Regions from separate parts of the Homo sapiens genome. Here region 1 is linked to region 2. The links come from fine-mapping of genetic effects on gene expression. A gene starts in region 2. The other region holds a variant in brackets. All regions are shown on one strand. Distances are from middle to middle. Region 1 overlaps ZFR2 (zinc finger RNA binding protein 2). Region 2 holds the start of ZFR2 (zinc finger RNA binding protein 2).

The links.
Region 1: its variant is fine-mapped to the expression of ZFR2 in whole blood (TOPMed, PIP above 0.99). The same link has a PIP of 0.9 or more in blood mononuclear cells.

Annotation. Positions count from the first base shown.
Region 1 is chr19:3,819,885-3,824,884 of GRCh38, reverse strand. ZFR2 (zinc finger RNA binding protein 2) reads left to right here. Exons shown (of 19, transcript NM_015174.2): 8 at 1,482-1,639; 9 at 2,685-2,804; 10 at 3,406-3,545; 11 at 4,595-4,703. Among named protein-coding and RNA genes, the nearest start is that of MATK, 36 kb to the right of the region's middle. RefSeq lists an enhancer at 2,926-3,085. The variant G/C (reference allele first, on the strand shown) is at 2,875.
Region 2 is chr19:3,866,617-3,872,044 of GRCh38, reverse strand. It overlaps ZFR2 (zinc finger RNA binding protein 2), which reads left to right and starts at 3,007. Exons shown (of 19, transcript NM_015174.2): 1 at 3,007-3,080. The coding sequence starts at 3,028. It also overlaps the pseudogene FTLP5. RefSeq lists an enhancer at 421-920.

The DNA of each region.
Region 1 (5,000 bases), 47 kb after region 2:
GCTCACTGCAACCTCTGCCTCCTGGGTTCAAGCGATTCTCCTGCCTCAGCCTCCTGAGTAGCTGGGACTATAGGCATGCACCACCACGCCCGGCTAATTTTTGTATTTTTCGTAGAGACAGGGTTTCACCATGTTGGCCAGGCTGGTCTCGAACTCCTGACCTCAAGTGATCCACCAGCCTCGGCATTCCAAAGTGCTGGGATCACAGGCGTAAGCCACTGCGCCCGGCCTCTTCTGGTAGAATCTGGCCTGGTGCCGGGTGCTGGGGTTCTCTGGAAGCCCTCACCCTGCACCTACAGGGTTCCCTGGGCTGCCACCTCCACTGTGCTCCCCTGCATGCCCTGGTGCTCACGGTGAACAAATTGGGCTCAGAATCAGAGTTATATGGGTACCAGGAAATGAAGGTGGAATCCTCACACCCCTCTGCCTGTGACCCTACCTTCCCTGCGTGCAAAGCCCCAGCTGTCAGAGCTGACCCGCGTTAACTAGGATTACATGCCAGGCGTCTGCTCACTGCTTTGTGTGCATTGCTTCGCTTTACCTCCACGACAACTCTTTTTTCGTGGTTTGTTTTGTTTTGTTTTTGAGACAGAGTCTCACTGTGTCACCCGGGCTGGAGTGCAGAGGTGCAATCATAGCTCACTGCAGCCTCCACCTCCTGGGCTCAAGCGATCCTCCCAGCTCAGCCTCCTGAGTAACTGGGACTACAGGTGTGCACCACCACATCCCACTACTTTTTGTATTTTTTTTTGTAGAGGTGGGGTTCTGCTATGTTGCTGGGGCTGGTCGGAAACTCCTAGGCTTAAGCGATCCTCCCAACTCGGCCTCCCGCAGCACTGGGTTTACAGGCATGAGCCACTGTGCCCAGCCCACAACTCATTTGAGTCAATGTTGTCACCAGTCCCAATGTGTAGATGGAAAAGCCGTAAACGGTGGAGGTGGAATTGGAACCCGGGTCTGTCTAAGAGTCTCTGCCCTGGACCACCGTGCTGTGCGTGGGCAGGGGTCGAGGGAGCCACATTCTATTTTTAGCCTCAGCAGCGTTGATTCTTGAATAGCAACATGATTTTGAAGATCAAACCATCAAGTCATTCTTATAACAAAGATATTTGTCTCCCCCCGAGGCTCCATCATTTCGCCTAACGGGGGTAGGTTAAGTGCGAGCCTTGGTCCGCCTGATACTTCATGGTCTATTAACTGTGGATTTTGTGCTGTCGGTGGGTTCCTCAAGCGAGGGCCTAAAACCAGGGCTTCTCCCCGGATGGATTGAAATTGGCCTCGGTTTCTTGGCTGGGTCACACGCAGGCATGAAAGGGAGAGCGAGGTTGCTGTCCGGGGCCATTCCCCCTGACATCACAGGAGGGAGGGGGATGGCACAGCCTGCAGTCTGGGTGGCTCTCCACCCCATGCCGCCTGGCGGGTCTGCAGCTGCAGTGCTTTCTCCTGGAACAGGGTATAAGTGACATGGTTTTTCCCCTCAGGGCCTCCTGAGCCACAGGCAGCAGGCTGCAGACCCCAGTGGGGGAAACCAGCCCAACCTAAATTAGAGGGTCCCGGAGCACCTACCCAAGGAGGCTCAAAGGAAGCTCCCGCGGGCTGCTCTGATGCGCAGCCGGTGGGCCCGGAATATGTGGAGGAGGTAAGTCGAGGCTGTCAAGTCCTGGTGCCCCGGTCAGGGAAGGACCTTCCCATGGATCAGGCTTCGAGACCTCACCCGGCTTCTCCCAGCGAGATTTACAGACCCATCCCCGTTCCTGAGCTGCACAGGCCAGACCTCCATGGACCAAAACCCCGTGCAGACCCGCTTGACACTTTGGGTGCCGGATTTTGGTATCAGCAGGAAATGAATATGGCCCCGTGAGGGCCAGAGACAGGCCGAGGCATTCCCAACAGGGGACCCTGCGGAGCCGTCTGTCTGGAAGGTGGAAGGGATCTGGGCAGTAGAAAGCTCCCCGGGAGGTTGGAAGCCCTTCTGTCTAGCCCCTTTCCTGGGCCTGCGGGACCCTGGGACCTGCCAAGGTCAGGCTGGTGAGCAGTGGAGCCGAGCTCCTGGGCCAGGTCTGCCAGCTCCCAGGCCAGCGGCAGTTCAGACCCCGGTTGGCCTTGTGCGTGCCAAAGAGGCAGGGCTGGGTTTCCTCTGCCTTGCCTGTAGGCCTGGGATTCTTTTAAGAGAAAGGGTCTTGCTGTGTCACCGAGGCTGGAGCACAGTGGTGCCATCATGGCTCACTGCAACCTCAAACTTCTGGGCTCAATCAATCCTCCCACCTCAGTCTCCTGAGTAGCTGGGACTACAGGCATGAGCCACCACTCCCAGCTAATTTTTGTATTTTTTATTTTTTTTGTAGAGATGGGGGTCTCGCTATGTTGACCAGGCTGGTCTTGAACTCTTGGGCTCAAGCAATCCTCCAGCCTCCCATGGTGGCGTGTGCCTGTGGTCCCAGCTACTCGGGAGGCTGAGGTGGGAGGATCGCTTGAGCCCAGGAGTTTGAGGCTGCAGTGAGCCAAGACCGAGCCACTGTACTCCACTCCAGCTTGGGTGACACAGCAAGACGCTGTCTCTAAAAAGACATACATAAATAAAATGAGCAGCAAGGAGGAAGGCTCCGCCGCGACCTGGCAGCGGTAGCATCTCACATCCCACCCCGCCTCGTGCCTGGTGCGCGTGCGGCTGTTCTGTGTCTCAGGTGTTCAGCGACGAAGGGCGAGTGCTTCGCTTCCACTGCAAGCTGTGCGAGTGCAGTTTCAACGACCTTAACGCGAAGGACCTGCACGTGAGGGGGCGGCGGCACCGGCTGCAGTACCGGGTGCGTCCAGCAGGGGGAGCTCCGACACCCGTCCGGGCTGTGCTAGGGCCCGGCGGGCGCTGGGAGGCCT[G/C]TGGTCGGGCCTCTTCCGCGCGTGTGATCCGACGAACTTAAGAGGGAGGGGTGATTTTCTGGGTTTTCAACGTCTTGGTCCTCGTCTCAAAAGTGTATCTTCGGCCGGGCGCGGTGTCTCACGTCTATCATCCCAGCACTTTGGGAGGCCAAGTTGGGTGGATCATTTGAGGTCAGGAGTTCGAGACCAGCCTGGCCAACATAGTGAAATCTTTACTAAAAATACAAAAATTAGCCAGGTGTGGTGGTGCGCACCTGTAATCCCAGCTACTCGGGAGGCTGAGGCAGGAGAATCGCTTGAACCCGGGAGGCGGAGGTTGCAGTGAGCCGAGGTCACACCATTGCACTCCAGCCTGGGAGACAAGAGCAAGACTCTGTCTCGAAAAAAAAAAAAAAAAAAAAAAAAAGGCTTTGGGAGATTTTTCAGCCCAACAGTTCTAGTCTCTGGGCCTCTCCCTGCACCCCAAGATCCTCCTGGCATCCCTGTCTAAAGCAAGGTCCCTACTCTCAGAGCCTTGCCTGTCCTTTCCAGAAGAAAGTGAACCCGGACCTTCCCATTGCCACGGAGCCCAGCAGCCGGGCTCGGAAGGTCCTGGAGGAGCGCATGAGGAAGCAGCGGCACCTGGCGGAGGAGCGGCTGGAGCAGCTGCGGCGCTGGCACGCGGAGAGGAGGTGCCCGGCTGCGGGTCTTGGCAAGGGGGCCTGGTGAGGGAGGGCAGGTCCAGCGTGGAACCTAGACGCCCACTGCTGCAGATTACGGAGCTCCTCCGTGTGAGCTCTCGAGCAGTGGGGGGAGACGGGTGCCCGGGCAGTGGGCACGTCCTGGTGTGGGAGCGTGAGAGGGTTCCAGAGCAGACGGGCAAGGGCACAGTGGCGTGCGGACCTGACACGTGGGCTCCAGGGCCTCCGTAGACGCAGGGACACTGCCGGCCAACTCGCTGGACCACACGGCTGCAGAGGTGCCTTGTGACCTGTGTCCCCCGACCCCCGGTGTCCCTGTGTCCCCGACCTCTAGTGTCCCTGTGTCCCCCGACCTCTAGTGTCCCTGTGTCCACCGACCTCTAGTGTCCCTGTGTCCCCCGACCCCCGGTGTCCCTGTGTCCCCCGACCTCTAGTGTCCCTGTGTCCCCCGACCTCTAGTGTCCCTGTGTCCCCCGACCCCCGGTGTCCCTGTGTCCCCCGACCTCTAGTGTGCCATGTGACCCCTGACCCCTGGAGTCCCCCTGACCCCTGGTGTCCCTCTGTCCCCTGGTGTTCCTGTGTCTCCTGACCCCTGATGACCCTGTGTCCCCTTACCCTTGGTATCCCCTGAGTCCCCTTGACCCCTGGAGTCTCCTGTGTCCCCCTGATCCCCTAGCGTCCCCTCATTCCCAGTGTCCCCTGTGTCCATCCTAGAGCATTTTCTGATGTAACATCTGACTCTGGTGTGTCCAGCAGCAGCAGGTCTGCATTGGGAAGGGAACCAGGACCTCCTGAAGGCCATGGCTGCCCGGGCTGGGCCTCATTTGCCTAAGGGGTGTCTTTGGCTGCCCCCCACACCAGCCTTCCCAGCCTCAGTCTTCTGTGCATACAGCAGGCACCCATGCAGTGCAGTGGAGCCCCAGCAAGAGCTTTGGCCCTTCCTTCCTTGCTGGGAGCATAAGGCCCCAGTGTTTCTGACTTGCCCCCAGCTTAGGGCCACTGCTGGCCTGACCATGCTCTGTCACGTCTCGGTCCTGCAGGCGGCTGGAGGAGGAGCCACCCCAGGACGTGCCGCCCCACGCGCCGCCCGACTGGGCCCAGCCTCTGCTCATGGGCAGGCCGGAGTCACCCGCCAGCGCCCCACTCCAGGTAGGTACAGTTTCCTCTGTGTGCAAACGCGGGCGACCTCACACTCCCCGGAGCAGCGGACACCTCCTCGGGAGGACCCGGCCTCCCCCCAACTCCCACATAGTACTCAGGGGATGGGGCTCCATGGCCCAGGCCTCCTCACTCCACAGATGGGAGCCCCAGCACCCCAGCCCCTGCCACTGGCCACAGAGATCCCTTCTGCTTCCTGGAGCCCCGGGTGGTCGCCTCCCTTGGGGAGCCTCATGCCTCTGTGGCTACTACTGTCTCTTCTCAGAAGCACCTGTCCCCGCAGCCCGA
Region 2 (5,428 bases):
CCGGGCCGGCCAGCCTGTGGAGGTTGGTCAGGTGGTCACCCATCTTCTTCTTCTTTTTTTTTTGGAGAGCCTCACTCTATTCCCCAGGCTGGAGTGCAGTAGCGTGATCTCGGCTCACTGCATCCCCTGCCTCTTGGGTTCAAGCGATTCTCATGCCTCAGCCTCTTGAGTAGCTCACCACGCCCGGCTAATTTTTGTATTTTTAGAAGAACTGGAGTTTCGCCATGTTGGCCAGGCTGGTCTCAAACTCCTGACCTCAGGTGATCTGCCTGCCTCGGTCTCCCAAAGTGCAGGGATTACAGGTGTGAGCCACCGCGTGCAGCCCACTTCCTCATCTCGGAAGTGACTCTCCAGGAAGTCACAGAGATGGGGGTCTGTAGGGGCGGAACCCAGTGCATGAAGATCCAAAAGACTCTGGTTGAGATTTTTCCCCGGGGCCATGGCGGCTTCCATGGCTTCCAGGGTTTTACCCCACTCATCTTGACCTGGCTTCAGGATGTCCTGGAAGACAGCAGGGCCACCACGCTGGTTTTGCATCTTCAGGAGACGCTCAACACCCTTGCGCTTCTCCTTGGCCAATTCATGGAAGAAGTAAGCCCCGCATTCCGGAGCCACATCTTGGTGATCGAAATAGAAGCGCAGACGATGGCTCACGCCTGTAATCCCAGCACTTTGGGAGGCCGAGGCAGGCGGATCATGAGGTCGGGAGATCGAGACCATCCTGGCTAACACGGTGAAACCCCGTCTCTACTAAAAATACAAAAAAATTAGCCAGGCGTGGTGGTGGGCGCCTGTAGTCCCAGCTACTCGGGAGGCTGAGGCGGGAGAATGGCGTGAACCTAGGAGGCGGAGCTTGCAGTGAGCAGAGATCGCACCACTGCACTCCAGCCTGGGCGACAGAGCCAGACTCCGTCTCAAAAAAAAAACAAGCAAAAAAAAAAAAAAAAAAACCCGCAGAGGGAGGAGGTGTAGGAGGCCCGCAGGTGCAAACTGACCAGGCGGTTGACGGCTGCCTCCACCGCGGTGGAATAATTCTGACGAATCTGGGAGCTCATGGTTGGTCGGCAAGAAGGAGCTAACCAAAAAAACGGCGTTGGTTGGTCCGAGAAGCAGGAGATGGCTGAGCCGATGCTCCTGGAGGTTGCAAGAAGAGAGGAAATCAGCGGGTGGTCGGAGGCTGGAAGTGAGTTCCCGGATCTGTTCCATCCAAACACTGTGGAAGCAAGAGACGGATCCGCGGGACCGCCAAACACGCTGCTGCTTGTCAGGTTTCAATACTGTCAAGTGACTCTCCCTCCCCCTCCTTCCAGGCTGCAGTCTTGGGAAGGAAGTCACTATGCACAACCCACACTCAAGAGGTGTAGAGTTACTCTCTATCTCCTTAAGCGCAGTGTAGCTACACAAATTAGGAATTCTTCTGCATAAGAGATTTGTCTGTTTGCCTCCATTTATTTGTTTATTCATTCAATTCTTTCTCTCTCTCTCTCTCTCTCTCTTCTTTCCTTCCCTTCCCTCCCTCCCTGCTCCTCTCCCTCTCCTCTTTTATTATTTATTTATTTATTTTTTTATTTTTTATTTTTTTATTTTTTTGAGACGGTGTATTGCTCTGTTGCCCAGGCTGGAGTACAGTGGTGTGATCTCGGCTCGCTGCATCCTCCACCTCCTGGGTTAGGTAATTCTCCTGCCTCAGCCTCCCGAGTAGCTGGGATTACAGGTGTGCCCCACCACGCCTGGCTAATTTTTTTTTTTGTATTTTTAGTAGAGACAGGGTTTTGCCATGTTGGCTAGGCTGCTCTTGAACTCCTGACCTTGGGTGAGCTGCCCACCTCGCCTTCCCAAAGTGCTGGGATTACAGGCGTGAGCCACCACGCCCAGCCCTTTCTTTCTTTTCTCTTTTTTGAGACAGGGTCTCACTCTGGAGTGCAGTGGTACAGTCACAGATCACTGCAGCCTTGACAGCCCAGGCTCAAGTGATCCTCCCACCTTAGCCTCCTGAGTAGCTGGGACCACAGGCATGTACCACCATGACCAGCTAATTAAAAAAAAATTGTAGAAACAGGGTCTTGCTATGTTGCCCAGGCTAGTCTCAAAGTCCTAGGGCTCAAGATCCTCCTGCCTCCGCCTCTCAAAATGTTGGGATTACAGACGTGAGCCACTGTGCCCGGCCTATCATTTATTTATATCACGTTGTGAACACAGGAGGCAGAGACCATGGGGGCCTTCTGAAGAGTCATTCTGAGGCTAGATGCAGTGGCTCACGTCTGTAATCCCAGCACTTTTGGAGGCCAAGGCAAGATTATTTGAGGCCAGGAGTTCAACATCAGCCTGGGCAACATAGCAAGACACTGTCTCTACAAAAAATTTAAAAATTAGCTGGCTGTGGTGGTGGTGGGGCTTGAGCAGAGACCTCCACATCTGAGTGGTTAAAGAGAAGGTGGGGCTCGGAGACAGAGGTAGGGCTTGTGCAGAGACCATATCTGAGCAGGTAAAGGGAAGGCGGGGCTCCGAGAAAGAGGCGGGGCTTGTGGCATGGGTGGGGCTTGAGCAGAGACCTCCACACCTGAATGGTTAAAGGGAAGGTACGGTTCCAAAAAAAGGCGGGGCTTGTGGCATGGGTGGGGGTTGAGCAGAGATCACATCTGAGTGGGTAAAGGGAAGGCAGGGCTCTGAGTAAGAGGCGGGGCTTGTAGCATGGGCGGGACTTGATCAGATACCACCACATCTGAGTGGTTAAAGGGAATGTGGGGCTCCGAGAAAGAGGCAGGGCTTCTAGCATGGGCGGGGCTTGAGCAGAGACCTCCACATTTGAGTGGTTAAGAGGAGGGCGGGGCTCTGCGTAGGAGGCGGGGCCTCGGGGCAGGTGTGGTCGCGGGGCGGTGTCTCCCTAGCCTAAGAGAAGGAAGCGAGAAGGTGAGGGCTTCGCGCAGGGGGCGGAGCTTGGGGCGCGTGGCCAGGCGCGAGCGGCACGCGGCTCGGGGGCGGGGCGGGTGACGTCGCGGGTCCGCCAGGCTCGGGGAAGACGCCAAGATGGCGACGAGTCAGTATTTCGACTTCGCGCAGGGCGGCGGCCCGCAGTACAGGTAACTGCCCCGCCGCGCCAGCCCCCGCCAGTCCCGGCCCCTGCAGCCTGGCCGGGACCCCGCCTACCCCTTCTCCCGCCGCGTGCGCCCGGCCCGGCCCCAGTCCCAGCCCCAACCTGGAACCCCGGCCTGAGGGAAGCCGCGGCGCCGGGAGAAGCAGGCGGGGCGGCCTCAGGTTAGGCACCGGGCGGGATGCGGGCTCCGGGGCTCCGGCTGAGACGTCTCTGCAGCCAACGGTGTCTGTCGGCGGGAGCGGGAGGGGGCTCCTGAAGTGGGAGGGGGCCTGGGTTTGGGCCTGGGCCTGTGCGGGGTCGGGGGGGTCAGCCCCTGATGGGGGCGCCACGAGGAGGGCAGCGAGAGGGGACAGACCCGGGCGGGGGGTGGGTGGTCTGACCGAGGAGGGGAGGGGACGGAACTGACCCAATGCAGGGAGGAGACCTGGGAGGTGCCTGGCCGGGGAGTGGGTGGGGATGGGCAGAGGGGAGCTGACCCCTGATTGCTGGTAGGGGAAGAGAAGACACAGACCTAGGAGGGTGTCTGGCTGGGCAGGAGGAGGGGAAGGGCAGAGGGGCATTGACCCCCGATTGCGGGGGGAGGAGAAGACACAGACCTGGGAGGGTGCCTGGCCGGGCAGGGGGATGGACAGAGGGTAGCTGACCCCCGATTACTTGTAGGGGAGGAGAAAACAGAGATCAGCGAGGGTTCCTGGCTGGGCAGGAGGAAGCCACAGTCGAGGGGTGAGGAATTGGCCCCTGATGGGGGTAAGAGAGAAGACAGAAACCTGGGAGGGTGTCTGGCTGGACAGGGGGAGAGCTAGAGCGGAGCTGACCCCGATTGCTGGTAGGGGGAGAGAATTCAGACCTGGGAGGGTGTCTGGCTGGGCAGGAGGAGGGGAAGGGCAGAGGGGCGTTAATCCCCGATTGCTGGAGGAGGAGAAGGCAGAGACCTGGGAAGTTTCCCGACTGGGCAGGGGGCAGCAACATTCGAGTGTGGAGGGCACTGACCCCTGATGGTGGGGGTAGGAGAGAAGGCAGAGACCTGGGAGGGTACCTAGCAGGCAGGGGCAGAGACCTGGGGTGGGGTGTGGAGTAGGGGTGGGAACCTGACCCCTGATGTGGGGTGGAGGAGAGAAGACAGAGACCTGGGAGGTTACCCCAGGGAGGGGCGGAAACCGAGGTTGGTGGGGAACTGAGGCCTGACTGGGGAAGGGGGACAGAGACTTGGCGGGAAGCCAGTATTATGTGGGAGGAGGTCCTGAGGTCAAATAAGAGGGTGGGCACCTGGGTTTCCAGGGAACTGGGACCCTGCTGGGACAGTGAGGAGGGAGAAAGGGCCCTGAGTGTTGTGATATTTAAGATCCTTTTCTAGGTCTTAAATATGTGGTCGTTTGGGAGGGGAGGGAGAGAAAGGATCCTGGAGGAGAGATGGCAGGGGATGGGGACACACTGGGAACTGGCCAGGGGCAGAAGGGCTCAGAGGGTAGGGACACACACGGGGTAAGTTTGTGCCCCAAGTGTACAAACACACACTCTACACTGTTCTCCCAGGCCTGCTCCTCGGAGCATCTCTGCTATCTTCAGCCCGTCCATCTGCCCCCAAGACTGGAGTCCCAGTCCGGGAGCCAGGGCTGGCATCTCTGAGGGGACCAGATTCCCCCCCCAACAGTTGATCATTTCCGCGTGTCACCCTTGTGTTAGTTTCCAGCTGGTAGCTTGCTATAACCTTGTTTCTCACAGTCCCTGCTGAGCCCCCACAGATACAAACCACCCCTTGGGCACCTCATAGAGGGGCCTCTGCTGAGCTCAGGGGGGTCTTTGCCCCCCGCGGTGTTCCTACTGCATTTCAGCACATGGAAGAGAGATCCAGGCTGGTGTTTCAGCTTCCCGCGGTGGAGCGGCAGTGCCGACCCTTCCACCAGTGCTGTGATATTGCTGTGCCCTTTCTAATGGAATCACAAAGAGAAACCACCCAGGGCTTGGAAACCAGGGCTGTGGGAATGAGGAGTGCATCTGTTTCCTGCACTCGGAGTGGTTTCTCTGGTGGAGTATTTGACTAGTAATGGATTTCCTATTAGGGAAAGAATCTATGACCTGCTGATTTCCCAGAATGGAGCATTTAATTTTTATTTGATCTTTTCTTTTGCTTCCTTCATCCTCAGTGGTGTTTTGATTGCCAGGGCTCAGTTAAAGCGGCTGGACTTGGCTAGCGATCCAGGCTAGTACAAACTTCTGGACACACTCCACCCCTCTGCCTGCTAGCTCTTCCTTCTTTTCTCTTTCTCTTCTTTCTTTCTCCATTGTATTCTTCCATCAGACGTGGAAAATCACTTGAATATTATGCTTGCTATT